Linked DNA regions of Homo sapiens: region 2 is linked to region 1. A link means that fine-mapping ties the variant in region 1 to the expression of a gene that starts in the linked region. Tissue or cell type: sun-exposed skin. Region 1 holds a variant in brackets; the other region holds the start of a gene. All regions are shown on one strand. Distances are from middle to middle.

The links. PIP is the estimated chance that this variant, and not a neighbour inherited with it, causes the effect.
Region 2: GPR132 starts here. The variant in region 1 is fine-mapped to the expression of GPR132 in sun-exposed skin (GTEx, PIP above 0.99). The same link has a PIP of 0.9 or more in unexposed skin.

The regions. Positions count from the first base shown.
Region 1 is chr14:105,017,875-105,025,424 of GRCh38, forward strand. CDCA4 (cell division cycle associated 4) reads right to left here and starts at 3,209. Exons shown (of 2, transcript NM_017955.4): 1 at 3,125-3,209. RefSeq lists enhancers at 1,274-1,934, 2,386-2,901, 3,416-3,929, 3,945-4,004 and silencers at 2,555-2,644, 2,655-3,544, 3,575-3,644. The variant G/T (reference allele first, on the strand shown) is at 3,606.
Region 2 is chr14:105,061,212-105,068,761 of GRCh38, forward strand. GPR132 (G protein-coupled receptor 132) reads right to left here and starts at 4,219. Exons shown (of 4, transcript NM_013345.4): 1 at 4,168-4,219. RefSeq lists enhancers at 2,438-2,497, 2,698-2,797, 2,908-3,047, 4,725-5,242, 4,918-5,087 and 4 more.

The DNA of each region.
Region 1 (7,550 bases):
GAATGTATACGATCTGGTGTATTCTGACAAAGGAATGCAACTCAGCAACATACCTCAATGATTTATGCAACACGGATAAATTTCAAAACATTATGCTGAATAAAAGCAGCAAGACACACACAAAAATATGTACCGTAGGATTCTATTGATCTGAACCTTCAGGACAGGCAAAGCTAATCTAAGTTGTGAAAACACAGAAGGGTAGCCACCATCAGGGTGGGAAATGCTACAAGGGGCCAGAAAGAATCCTCCAGGATGATGGAGATTCTCTCTCGCCCCTTGTAGGACTTGTGTAACCCAGGGACCTGCATAGATGTGCCTGGGTTACACAAGTTCTACAAGGGACGAGAGATAATCCCCATCATCCTCCACTGCATCTCATCCCATGCACAGATCCCATTCTGGTACCAGGAGAATATCCCTGTTCAGTCACTTCAAATCATTCCTCTCCAATGTTCCAAATCTCCAGCAGCTGTTAATTCTGTGTTGTACCCAATATTTTAAAATGCTGACAAGTTTATTACTATTAATACAAAAAAGAGTAAAGCTCACAGGTGCTTTTTACAGTCACGTGACCCCAAAGAGCTGTCACCCAGAACATGTGTTCAGGAGTGAAGAGGATAAGGTTGGGCCCGGAGAAGCTGGCCTGTGAGGATCACCCTGAATTGGGTTATATCTGTGTTTGGGACAAAGTCAGCAAGAGCATGGTCTTAACCAGCCCCGAGGGATGCCTGGGCTGGGCCCAGCTCCCTGAGGGCCTCCTGTGTGACTTCTGCCTGAGGCTGCTTAACTCCTTCTAATATGGAATGAGAAAGGGCCCTATACCATACCGGTGGGGCTGTGGAGCCTAGCTCCCTGCTCAATTTTTTTTTTTTTTTTTAAGACAGAGTCTCATTCTGTCCCCCAGGCTGGAGTGCAGTGATGCAATCTCAGCTCACTGCAACCTCCACCTCCCAGGTTCAAGCGATTCTCCTACCTCAGCCTCCCGAGTAGCTAGGACTACAGGCACGCGCCACCACACCCGGCTAATTTTTGTATTTTTTGTAGAGACGGGGTTTCACCATGTTGGCCAGGCTGATCTCGAACTCCTGAACTCAGGCAATCCGCCCATCTCGGCCTCCCAAAGTGCTGGATTACAGGCGTGAGCCACCATGCCTGGCCCCCTGCTCAGTTTTGAAGCTCTTTCTACACATCTAGTTAAATGCCTAAAATCCCACCAACTCCACAGGTTGTTACCGGGACAGCCAAGCCCTCAGTCAACTCCCAGCACTGCCCTCAGGCTTCTAAACCAAGCACCGACCAGACAGAGAAAAACGAAGAGGGCCAGACGGACTGAGGACATGTCCGACATGGCAGGTGGAACAGCCAACAGGCCACTAGGGACAGAGCAACCTAGGCCCACCGAGGCAGAGGCCAGCAGGGAGCAGCCCCGCAGTGCTGCTCAGGCAAGCAGAGTACAGCTCGGGGACTGGTCCTTCACTACAGCAGCAGTGGCCACACCTTCGTGGCTGAGCAATACCACGAGGCTGGCTGAAAACGCAGATTCCCAGATTCTGATCAGTAGGGCTGGGACGGTTGGGGACAGACTCAACTCTGACCTAACCTGTCACCTTCACAGCTGGACTTGCAGCCACTTCAAAGTTTCGGGTTTTTAAGCAAATCATCAACAATTTCCATTCCTCACACATCAGATAAGCTTTGAAATACTTTATCGGAAAAACAGGGAGAAGAGGAGCAAGGTCTGCAGTCTTGAGTACTGAGTGGGAGCTCCACCTTCCACTACAAGTCTCCTGGAGGCTGTTCATGAACAATTACTGTTATGTTAATTTCAGGTATTTGGTTTTTTTTGTTTTTTGAGACGGAGTCTCGCTCTGTCGCCCAGGCTGGAGTGCAATGGCACGATCTCGGCTGAGACCTCTGCCTTTCTGGTTCAAGCGATTCTCCTGCCTCAGCCTCCCACATAGCTAGGATTATGATTACAGGCATGCGCCATCACGCCCAGCTAATTTTTGTATTTTTAGTACAGACGGGGTTTCACCACGTTGGCCAGCTAGTCTCGAACTCGGGACCTCAGGAGATCCACCCGCCTAGGCCTCCTCTCAAAGTGCTGGGAGGTGTGAGCTACCGCGCCCAGCCAATTGCAGGTACTTTTGTTACTTGGAACGAAACACACTCCTTCTTTTCCCTGAAAACATGTTCCAGTGGCAAGTTGAGGGAAACTTCCTAGCCCCTTTTCCAAGATACAGCCTACTACTCTTCCTAGAAAAGGGGTGTAACTCACTTTGTATTCTGGATTTCCACCCTAATTATAAAACACGGTGACACTTGAAAATAGAGTGGTTGTACGTAGAAAGTTGATAAAACGTAAGTTTTGTGAACAGGCAATGTTTTTCTGTGGCTCGCTTTGAGAGAACGGTTATCTGGGTCCCGCCGTCCCGTGCGTCCCACACGAAGGCCACAGGAGAAGCGAGGCAGCGGAGACCCTCTATTCCAGCAAGCTGTCGGAGCCTTTGCCACGACGATCCTGTTTGCGGGGCGAGAAGCGTCTGAAGACGCGGAGGGAGGCTTGCGTCTGACTTCTGCAAGTGTCTCGGGGACTTTCCCTAGTCCCACCTCGCACCGCCGGAGGAGCCCAGGGAAGACGGCGCTGGCCGACCCGCCCGGGGTCTGGGCCTCCTCCCACATCCGCGGCCCTCTCCGCGGCCGGGCTCCGACAGAGGGGGCTGCGGCGCGCCTGGCGTTCCCTCCGCTGCAACTAGAGCCGAGGTACGGGAAACGCCGCTGCGTACCCCAGCCGGGCCCTCGTGAAGCGGCTCCCGCGTGGGGCCGCCCGCAGGCCTCGGCAAAGCCCCAGCTCCGCGCTCCGCAAGGAACGCAGACGGCGGCCCGGGCCCCTCTGTTCCCCGGGCCCCCTCAGCAGCGGCCACCCCGCGGGGGAACCAGCGCCCAGGAGGGCGGCGAGGGCGCCGCGGCAGCCCCAGCGGTGGTCCCGGGCGCCGCCTCCGCCCCGGACCCAGCGCCAGGAGCCACAGACTCCGCGCACCGCCCCCAGGCTCCTCCGCGCCCTGCAGCACAAAAGTGCACGCCGCCGTAGACGCCCTAGCGGTCCGCCGGGCCCGCTCACCTGACCCGCGAGGCCGCCCGCCGGGTCCTCTGCTCAGCCACCGCCACCGCCGCTGCCGCCAGCTTCCCGCCGCTGAGGAAGGAGCGCCCGACGGCGCGGGGCGGGGCGAGCGACCGCCACTCGGCGTCCACAAAGGGTCGACGCTGCGCTCTCCGCGCGCTACGCCCGCTGATTGGCCACTCGCGGGCCGGGGGCGGGGCCTCTTGTTCAAACCCACGCGGGCGGGGCATCTGTGGCGCGTCTTCCCGCGCTGCGGCGACGGCCGTTGGGGCTCGCGCGCGCCCTCGGTTGCCCCGCCCCCGCCCCTGCGCCCGGCCCCGCCACGCCCACGCCCCGCCGGCTCCCAGGTCTCCCCGCGCCCAGTCCGGCCCCGCCCCGCCAGCTCCCAGGTCTCCGCGCGTCTGGCCCTGAACTGAACGCGCCTGCGCCTGGGGCCCACGTGGGGCCCTCGGGCGGGCGTGGCGGGGCAAACAGAGGTTTG[G/T]ACTCTCTCGCTTCTGCCTGGCTCAACTTCTCCGCCGAGGCATCCGTGCCGGGGTCGGGAGGAGCCGGGCACGGCAATTCCCGGGCGGTCTGGGCTCCGAGGTCTATCCAAGCCTCTCCAGAGACCGGGGTTATCTCCAAAGGCTTCCTAGGTTTACACGTAAGAAATGTAACGTGAAAGTTCAAAGCAGGGGACACGTGTTTTAAATCTCTTAGTGGAAAAGGTTTTAAATAGGATGCGAGAACCTGCAATCATTGACTTAAGTAATACCCTGAGCGCCTGCAGCAGGCCCGGCAGGCGTGGCTGCAGCTGAGAGCCAAGTGCTGGAAGTTGGGGGGGAATCCTCAGATCAATCCGCAGGTGCGGATGCGCCAAGGTCGGTGGTAAATGCTGAAATGCTGTCGGGAAACCTGGGAGTGACGTGGGGGCGCTGCTCACATAGGTCTCTAGGATAAGGAGCGTCTTAAAGCACCAAAAGGAAGAGTGGACGAGAATTCAGGAGAGGAATGGCTGGGGCAAAGCCCGAGGCAGGGGCAGGAGGCAGGAGCACGTCTCAGTGCAGTGAGAAAGAACCCTGTGATCTCGTGGGAAAGTTTTAAGTGTGAGGGGTGGAGGGACTTTTGGGCTATTCTGGGAGTGGGATGGAGACTACTGGCATGGTCAGCAGAGAAGGAACTGGAATCTGAATTGTGCTTGAAAAGAATCACTGTTCTTATTTAAAAAAAAAAAAAAGGGGGTCTCTTTCGCCCAGGCTGGACAACAGTGGCGTGATTATGGCTCACTGTATCCTCGAACTCTTGTGCTCGAGTGATTCTCACGCCTCAGCCTCCCAAGTAGCTGGGACTACAGAAGTGTGCCACTACACCAAGCTAACTTTTTTTTTTTTTTTGGTAATTTTGTAGAGACAGGGTATTGTCTTGTTACACAGGCTGGTCTCCAACTCCTGGCCTTAAGTGATCCTCCTACCTTGGCCTCCCAAAGTTCTGGGATTACAGGCATGAGGCACCACAACCACCAAGAATCACTGTTGGTAATAGATTTGGAGGAGGTGGCAGGAAGGCTGGAAGTAGAAAATCCCATTAGGTTACTGCCCAGGTAAAAGAAAATGGGACTTGATAAAGGTGACTACCTGAGAATTTAAAGTTTATGCATGTCAAAGTGAAAAGACAAATGGGGAAAAAAGTTTTTCCTGGCTGTATCCCACATAAAGGTTAAATTCCTTAATATACAGATATTCTGCAAATGCAAATGAAATCTAGATCACCAAAGAAAAGTGGTTTGGAAATAGTGGCACCCACCTGTAATCCCAGCTACTCAGGAGGCTGGGGTGAGAGAATCCCTTGAGCCCAGGAGTTGGAGGCTGCAGTGAACTATGATTGCACCACTGCACTCCAGCCTGGGCAGCAGAGTGAGACCCCATCTCTTAAAAAAAGAAAAGAAAAGTGGGCGTAGAATATAAACACAGTTCAGAGCAAAGAAAATACAAATGCTCCTATACAGGCGAATAGATGCTCAGCCCCAATCAGAACAAGAGCAGTGGAAATTAAAGCTATGCTGGAGTGCTGTTTGCCACGGGTCAAATTGGCAAAGATCTAAAATAATGTCTGGAGTAAGATAATATCTTCCAGAGCATATTAGTCTATTCTCATGCTGCTAATAAAGACATACCCGAGACTGGGTAATTTATAAAGAAAAAGAGGTTTAATGGACTCGCAATCATGGCAGGAGACAAAGGAAAAGCGAAGGGACGTCTTACACGGCGGCAGGCAAGAGAGCGTGTGCAGGGAGCTCCCCTTTATAAAACCGTCAGATCTCAGGAAATGTATTCACTATCCGGAGAACAGAACAGGAAAGCCTGCCCCATGATTCAGTTACCTCCTGCCGGGTCCCTCCCACGACATGGGAATTATAGGAGCTACAATTCAAGATGAGATTTGGTGTGATATTTTGACATGTATATACAAAGTATAATGATCCATCAAGGTAGTTAGCATATCCATCACCTCAAACATCATTTCTTTTGTGTTGGGAACATTCAAAATCCTCTCCTCTACCTATTAGAAAATATGCAGTAAGTTACTGTTAACTGTAGTCATAAAATATTAACAGGCTTGCTAGGACATAGGACCAGAAAAAACATAGAAGTCTATGGTTACACCAAGATTGGAGTCATATTTTTCAGTAACTAATGTATTCAGGAAAATTGATGACAAGGAGAACTAGAATCCGTTAAAAAAAAGACTCAAATTGAAGAAAGAGCATCAGTCTTACACAGAGTCTTCCAAATGATAAAGGGGAACTCTTCTTACCAATTTGTTCTACAGGGCTAACAAATTTGATACTAAAACTCGAAAGGGACATGATGGGAGAAAACACACATGGTATTCTCTCTCATGAACATTGTTTAAAATTCCAAACCACATATTAGCAAATCAGATCCAATGATAATGTAAAAAAGGTAACTCATCACAACCAAGTTGGGTGTACTCCAGGAACTGGAGTACAGTTGATTTCACATTGCAAGGTCAACATGATTCATGACAATAGAATGAAGGAGAAAAAAAGTATGAAAATCTCAGTGTAGAAGCATCTAGTAAAATTCAACACCCCTTCATGGTATAATCTTTAGCAAACTAAATATACAAGTACAAAGTTAGGGACAGCCCCAAGACCACCCTCAAGTTTGAAATTCATTAGAAGGACTCAGAGAATTCCCTAGAAGCTATTGTACTCGTGGTTATGGTTCATTACCATGAAAAGGCTCATTAAAATTAACCAAGAGAAGAGGTGCATGGGGCAGCGGCCAGGAGAGGCCATGCGGAGACTCCAGTTGTTCTCTTAGTGGAGTCATAGTGGTATTGCTGGTGAAAATGTGTCACTGGGCCTGAGTCCAGAGTTCATTTACTTCCCAAATGAATATATACATTTATTCTATTGCCAGGCAAAATCCCAGGATATTTTTGAAACCTCACAAAATGCTATTAAAAATCTAGAGAAATGGCCGGGCACAGTGGCTCATGCCTGTAATCCCAGCACTTTGGGAGGCTGAGGTGGGCGGGTTACCTGAGTTCAGGAGTTCGAGACCAGCCTGGCCAACATGGTGAAACCCCGTCTCTACTAAAAATACAAAAATTAGCCAGGCGTGGTGGCATGTACCCGTAATCCCGCTACTCGGGAGGCTGAGGCAGGAGAATTGCTGGAACACAGGAGGCGGAGGTTGCAGTGAGCTGAGATTGCACCACTGCATTCCAGCCTGGGCGACAGAGTGAGACTCTGTCTCAAAAAATAAATAAATAAACATAAAAAATAAAATAAAAATCTAGAGAAATACATGTGGAAGGCTACCCTATAGATAAAGTAAGAAAAAAGAAAAGTATTAAGGAGGACACCCACCTCTATATCAGTTACCTTTTGCTGTGTGACACACTTTCCCAAACTTAGTAGATTCAAAAGGCAGCCTTTTGTTTGCTGGCATTTCTGCGGTTGGCATTTCGGCTGGGGTCACAGCATCCTGTGTCTCATGAGGCATCAGCTGAGCTCACTCAAGTGTTTGGGTCTTGGCAGAGATGACTGACTCATCTCTGCTCTGTCATCCTCCGGAAGGCCAGCCCAGGCAGGCACCAATACAGGGGCTCTTTTTATACTTCCCTCTGCTCTGCTCATATGTGCCAATGTCCAGGTGGCCAAACCACATGTGGCCAAGCCTAGGGCCAGTGTGGACACGAGAAGACAATTCCCTGGAGGACATTATTATTGTTACTATTATTTTGAGACAGAATCTCACTCTGTCGCCCAGGCTGGAGTGCAATGGTGTGATGCTCTCAACTCACTGCAACCTCTGCCTCCTGAGTTCAAGCGATTCTCCTGCCTCAGCCTCCCTAGTAGCTGGGATTACAGGCGCCCACCACCATACCTGGCTAATTTTTGTATTTTTAGTAGAGACAA
Region 2 (7,550 bases), 43 kb after region 1:
GGCCAACCAGGCTTGGGCGCCGGGGGAGCCCTGCACCAGCCCTTTGCTTATCAGAGCACATCCAGGCTTTGTCTGGCATTCCCTGCCGGACAGGCCCACAGCCTCAGGCAGCCCACCGGCCTCTTCCGAGGGCCTTCCTGGACCAGGGTCCGGGGTCCCGCCAGCACCTGCTCACCATCCTTTTGCCGCACCTGCTACTCCTACTGCCCCTGGGAGCCTCTGCCTCCCCTCGGGGTGAGTGAGCTCAGGATAGGGGCTCAGGGCCCTCTCTCCGGCCAGCCCAGTGGCCCCACCCGCCAGCTGCAGTGTCGCGGTCTGTCCTGGCCCGGGGCCAGGGCTGTTTCCTCCACAGAAAGGGGCGTGGGGTACAGCAGGTCACCCACATTTCAGGCCCTGCTCTTCCTCGGGGAGGGTGCAGTGGGGCCCGGGCCCTCTCTCAGCTTCCCCTGGGGCTGGGTCTTCAAGTGGAAGGACAAGGCCAGGCAGAGGCTTCCTGTGTTGTTCCACTCAGGAAGCAGGCACCACCCTCCTGGGGGGGGGGAGTCCCTCCTGGGCTGTGCATGGGGACCGTCCCTTCCTCTCATCGCCCCAGCTGTCTGGCCCACCAGTGGGGCTCCTCTCAGCTGTGGGGTGGGTGGGAGTGACTGAGCCCTGTGGGAAAGGTCCCCGGTGCAGACTTTCACTTCTGAAACAGCAGCAAGGTGCTCCCAGCCTGCCGGAGGCTTGGGTAGGGGATAGCCCACCATGCTCACAGCACCAGCAATGCCAGCCTGGCCTGGTGGACTCCAGGGGACTCTGTTCTTGATCTGCTCTGAGGGACTATGACAGGCAGAGGCCCCGCTATCACCATCCAACTCCAACTGGATTCAGGGCAGCGTGGCCAGACATGATGGCCATGGTGAGGTCCCTCGGATGACTCCAGCCACAAGACCACAGTGTGTGTGGGCCCAGGTCAGCCTGACACCCCCGTCCACCCATCCCTGAGCTCCAGCTGCATCTCCTGTCCCTGCTGGCCCTGGGCCCCTGCCTCCACCTCACATCAGCAAATGACCAAGCCCCTCATCACCCAGCCTCCATGCTGGGCAAATGTGTCCCTGTCCAGCTCCATCTTCAAGCCACACCTTGGCAGCCCACTGAGGCCAGCCCTCCACTGCTCCCTGGACTTCTCTCTCCTGTGTCCAACCCGCCTTTCTCCCACTCAGCGTGTCAGCTCCGAGGCTGCTCTGCCTCACACTTTCCGTGCTTCTTCCATGAACCCATGTTTTCTCTTTCTTTTTTTCTTTTGCCTTTTTTGCCTTTTCTTTCTTTTCTTTCTTTTCTTTTCTTTTCTTTTTTTTTTTTTTTTTTGAGATGGAGTCTTGCTCTGTTGCCCAGGCTGGAGTAAAGTGGCGCGATCTTGGCTCACTGCAACCTCTACCTCCCAGGTTCAAGCAATTCTCCTGCCTCAGCCTCCCGAGTGGTTGGGACTACAGGCACACCACCACGTCCAGCTACTTTTTTTGTATTTTTAGTAGAAACAGGGTTTTGCCATGTTGCCTAGGCAGGTCTTGAACTCCTGGGCTCCAATGATCCTCCTGCCTCAGCCTCCCAAAGTGCTGGGATTACGGTGTGAGCCACTACGCCCAGCTTTTTTTTCTTTAAATACTATTAAAATTGTTCTCTCTCTCTCTCCCTAACCCTCTCCCTCTCTCTCTTGCTTTATTTGTTTGTTTGTTTGTTTATTTATTTATTTGGAGACAGGGTCTTGCTCCCTCATCCAGGCTGGAGTACAGTGGCAAAATCTCTGCTCACTGAAACCTCCACCTCCCAGGCTCACATCATCCTCCCTTCCGAGTAACTGGGACTACAGGCACCTGCTGCCATGCCCAGTTAATTTTTGTACTTTTATTCTTAGAGACGAGGTTTCCCTATGTTACCCAGGCTGGTCTCGAGCTCCTGGGCTCAAGAAATCCGCCGGCCTCGGTCTCCGAAAGTGCTGGGAATACAGGCGTGAGCCACCATGCCCGGCCAATGAATCCATTTTCCAGATTAGAGAAGCACCACATGTTCCTGGGATGGACATTTCAATAACAGGATCTAGCATGACCTCACCCAGCCACTGTCCCTGGAGCTCTCTGGCCTGCAAGTTGCTGTGCTCCTCCAGTCTTTTAAAATCTATTTTGTAACTTTTTTTTTTTTTTTAGGCTGAGTTTCTCTCTCGTTGCCCAGGCTGGAGTGCAATAGCACGATCTTGGCTCACTGCAACCTCTGCCTCCCGGGTTCAAGTGATTCTCCTGCCTCAGCCTCTGAAGTAGCTGGGATTAGCAGGCGCCTGCCACCATGCCCGGCTAATTTTTTGTATTTTTAGTAGAGAAGGGGTTTCGCCATATTGGTCAGGCTGGTCTTGAACTCCTGACCTCAGGTGATCCGCCCGCCTCGGCCTCCTAAAGTGCTGGGATTACAGGTGTGAGCCACCACGCCCAGCCTGTTTTGTAACTTATGATGGAACTTTTCAGACAGACACAAAAGGACAGAGAAGGAGCCCTGGCCCCTGCCATGTGCAGGGAGCAGTTCCTCATTCCAGCCCATTTGTCAAAAACAGCTCCTCAGGCTGCTGAGGTCTGTCTTGTGGACTATCTGTAATTTCTTTCTTTCTTTTTTTTTTTGAGACAGAGTTTCGCTCTCGTTGCCCAGGCTGGAGTGCAATGGCACGATCTCGGCTCACCACAACCTCCACCTCCTGGGTTCAAGTGAGTCTCCTGCCTCAGCCTCCCAAGTAAATGGGATTACAGGCGTGTGCCACCACGCCCGGCTAATTTTGTATTTTTAGTAGAGACAGGGTTTCACCATATTGGTTACGCTGGTCTCGAACTCCTGACCTCAGGTGATCCACCTGCCTTGGCCTCCCAAAGTGCTGGGATTACAGGCGTAAGCCACCGCACCTGGCTGGATTGCCTGTAATTTCTAAGCTGTTTCACGGTTGCTGGCCATTCCTAGCCATTTCCGTCTTTTACTCCCACCTGCTTTGGCACCAGGCAAACCTATGACCTCTTTTCTGCCGTCACGTTTGAGACAAACCCTAGGGAGGGAAATGTGGAGTCACCAGCTCCAACCTCCCTGCTCCACCACACCCATCCAAAGCCCATTGTCAACTTTCTTATTTTTCCCAATTTGATAGTGTTGCCCAGGCTAGAGTGCAATGGCGCGATCTCGGCTCACTGCAAGCTCCGCCTCTCAGGTTCAAGCGATTCTCCTGCCTCGGCCTCCCAAGTAGCTGGGATTACAGACGTGTGCCAACACGCCCGGCTAATTTTTGTATTTTTAGTAGAGACAGGGTATCACCATGTTGGTCAGGCTGGTCTCAAACTCCTGACCTCAAGTGATCCGCCCACCTCGGCCTCCCAAAGTGCTGGGATTACAGGCATGAACCACCGTGCCCAGCCCCTATCCTCATCTTCTTCCAGGAGCCTCTGCTCTCCCACCTCGGCCTGGCCAATCTCCTGAAATATCATTTTGTGCTCAGCCCAACTGGCCAGTCTTCAGTGGTCAGTCCCAGTCCCTTGCAGTGGTACAGACCCACGTCATGCACTTGACAGAAGGTATTGGGCCCCCCGCCCCGCTGTGCCTGGTGCGCCGAACGCCACTCCAAAGGCCGGTGACCTGCCCAGCTCCAGGATCTTGTCACGTGACTGGGCCAACTGCCACTCACCGCAGCACAGCCCCCACTGCCCTGCTTTTCCCTCTGTGTAACCCCACAAGCAGCACAGGCCCCACAGAGAGAAGCCCAGCCCTTCAGTGCCCCCCGACCAATCACGGAAGCAAGTGGCCAAGGAGAGATTCCAGGGACAAAGTCCAGCCCCCTGACTCACCCCCATCTGGACCAGTAGCCAGGGAAGCCTTTTCCAGAAGAAAGTCTCCAGGAAGGTGGCGGTGACAAAGATACAATGGAAACTGTTGTCCCTCTCCCCCAAATCCTCCGGCCCCATCACATCTGTGGTCACTGGGGGTCCTGGGTTCTCTCGGGAGGGACCCCAGATTAAGAACCCTCAACAAAGCCTCCATCTTTACCAACAAATCACCTTTGCCTTCAGATCCCCCTCTGCCCGCCTCCAGCTCCCAGCCCCCAGCCCCATCCCAGAGCCTGGCCCCCCAGGCCCACTCCCCAGCACGCAGAGCCCAGCGACTTACCCAGGGCCCCGCCTGCGTGGCTAGCCTCGCACCCCTCCCTGCAGTCCTAGCTGAGGTTTCAGGAAGTAGCAGGGGTCTAATTATGTTCTGTCTAGAACTCCCCTAACCACAAACAGGGCTGAGCTAGGGGTTAGCCAACCGGGCTGGGGTATCTTACTGGTGATGACAGCATGGCCTCGTCACCTTCCTGAGGGAGGGAGTGGCAGGAAACCCCAGTCTTACCTCTTTTAGCAATAGCAGCACTCAGAGCCAGGCTCCACTCACTCAGGAGCTCCCAGGCAGGTGCTGGGGCCTGGCGCGGCACAGCGGCTGTCCGTGTGTCCCCAGACAGGCAAGGCAGGACAGGGGTCCTGGAAAGGCTGCAGGGAGGGGTCCTGGAAAGACAAAATCCAGCTCCTCTGCAGCTCAGGCCTGGTGTTGCCCACTCTCGGGCCAGGCAAGCACGGAGCAGGGTGACTTCCCAGAGGCTGTGTCCTCCCAGGAGTCCCTGTCCGGGGTGCCAGGAGTAGAGAGGCTGAGTGCGCCCACTGCAGCCCCGGGACCAGGATGGCACCTGCATGTCCTGGAAGGCTCGGCACAGCCACTGCACACAAGCACCCTCCCCTCCCCGCCTCCCTCTTCCTACATGGGGCAGGGCCGTGTGGGAAGAACAGCCTACTGCACACTCCACATTCCTCCCCCAGCCCTACCTCAACCCCTCCTGCATCCAGAACCAAGCCTGGCCTGGCCCAGGAGCCCTGCGGGTGGGCTTCTCTGTGAGGGGCCCTGTGGGAACTGGAGGGTGGGCAGGCAGGGTTGCCTGGGACAGTCCCCCTCACTGTGGGGCTTCCGGCCATGATGGGCCCAGTTTCCTTGGACAAAGCCAGCTGGCTGTGGACAGCACCTACAACTCCACTCACCTCCAGGCTGCTTCTGAGTTTCAGGGCACAGACCCACCCTGGTGCCCACTCCCGAGCCTGCCAAGCTCCATCCAAGCCAGGCTCTTTCAGCAGTGGGGACAGGGCCGGGCTGAGGGAAGGAGCTGGGGACCACAAATGTCTCCAAGCGACACTGCCCAGCACCGCAGCAGGGACGGTCACTGAGCGAAGAAGCCGCCATCCTGGGTGGGTACACCCACGGCCAGGAGAGGCCGGTGGAGGCCGAGCCCCCAGTCTACACTTTCCCCCAGACACGTGGATCACAGCTGCCCCCTGCTGCAGGGCCGCATGGCTGGAGGCTGCCTCCGAACAGCGATTTCAGAGGGTTTTGTGTGGGTGGCAGTGGAGTCCCTGGAAAGCTGGGCTTTCCCATTGCCCTGGCGGGGAGGCGCAGGTCTCAGGGCAGGGCCTACCTTGGCTTTCCAGAAACACTTGCCCAGGGGACAGTGATCCTCTAGGGGATCTGGTGCAAACACACGCCTCCACAGGCCACTGCTCATGGGGTCACTGGCCTCCCGGGTCTTTGGGCCAGGGCAGCCCCACCCTCGGAGCAGCAATAGACGAAGCCCACATCAGGCCAGTGGGGGTGATGGCCAGGGACAGCTGTGGGTTCCTGTCGCTGGCCCCAGCAGCCTCCTAGGACCTGCCCCGTCCTGCGCCCCACTGGGTGGTCTGTCACGTTCACCAGGCCTCCTCTGCGCCCCCGGTGAGGGGTCCAGGAGTGACATGCGGACCCGGCTCAGGCCATTGTCACCCTCCATGCCTTCTGGCCTTTGCCAGGCAGTCCGGGAATAGCCGATTCAAGTGAGGTCAGTTGAATCCTCTCTTTGGGTCCTTCACTGGGGTCTGGGAAAGGAAAGTTGGGTCCCTTGGGTGGCAGGAGCTGTGGGTATGAACTGGGGGGTTGGCAGCCGTGTACCGGCTCCCCTGCCCCTGCCAGGTGGAGAAGCCAGGCTGGGGTGGAGGGCAGGCAGGAGCCTGGGAGTCCAAACACTGACAGCCTGGGGGTGTGGACTGGCCCTGCCTATTCCCACCGGGCCTTCGGGACCAGTGGAGGCTGCCCCGGGCTGTGCGGCACCTGGGGTGTTGTCTCTGAGAAGCCCGTCAGGGAGATGGCTCTCCCTGCTCTGACCCCAGCAAAGCGATTCATACCCAGAGAATCCCTCACCAACAGGAGAGCAGGTTTCAGACAGGAAGTCACCCGAACATCCCACGGCTGAGTCACGTGCCAGAACAGCTCCCTGCGGCCCAGACACAGCAGTGGTGAGGTCCAAGCTGCAGACATGGGGTACAACTTCACATCCCGATGTGTGCACCAGAAACCGCCCTGCTGTCCGGTGGGTTCACCAGCCGTTCTCCTGGCCTGTCTGGACCCTGCAGAAGCCAAAGCTGGTGATTGCTTGCTAATTTGTCCAGTCAGTCTGGGAAGGCCTGGGCCCAGGGGGAGACAAGGCCAGGAATAAGGGAAGGGAGGGTCAGAGCAAGAAATGTCCAGGGGGCAAAGTTGGAAGGAGCTGGAAAGATGGGACGAGGGACCCAAAGAGCCCCTGTGCATGGGGCCAGTGTGGTCTGCTCTACCTCCCGGGCAGACACAGGGCCTTGCTCTTGTCTGGCCCTAAAAAACCCTGAATGGCCAGCTCTGGCCTTCCCCACCTGGTGCATCTGGAGCAGAAGTTCCCAAGGGCTACCTTGCATGTGGGGTGCGGCTGTCCCCCAAGCCAGGTGTGACCACGCTGTGGGGGCTTGTGGGGCTGCTCCTCTGGTGACGGCGGCAGGGTTGGGTCGGGGGCCTTTGCTCTATAACTGTAGAGAGACAGTGGCCGGAAGGGTAGGCTTTGAGAGTGGGGGCCCCAGGCCTCCCAGCCTCCCAGGAGGACAGGTGTGGCGGGCAGATGCCCAGATCCCTGTCGGTCCCGTCGCCCAGGCTGGAGTACAATGGTGCAATCTCGGCTCATGCAACCTCCGCCTGCCTGGTTCAAGTGATTCTCCTGCCTCAGCCTCCCAAGTAGCTGGGATTACAGGTGTGTGCCACCACACCCAGTTAATTTTTTGTATCTTTTAATAGAGATAGGGTTTCATTATGTTGGCCAGGCTGGTCTCGAACTCCTGACCTCATGATCTGCCTGCCTCAGCCTCCAAAAGTGCTGGGATTACAGGCGTGAGCCACCACGCCTGGCTTTTTTTTTTTTTTTTTTCGAGACGGAGTTTTGCTCTTGTTGCCCAGGCTGGAGTGCAATGGCAGGAACTTGGCTCACCGCAACCTCCACCTCCCAGGTTCAAGCGATTCTCCCGCCTTAGCCTCTTGAGTCGCTGGGATTACAGGCATGTGCCACCACGCCTGACTAATTTTGTATTATTAGTAGAGACAGGGTTTTGCCATGTTGGTCAGGCTGGTCTCGAACTCCCGACCTCAGGTGATCCTCTCACCTTGGCCTCCCAAAGTGCTGGGATTACAGGTGTGTGCCA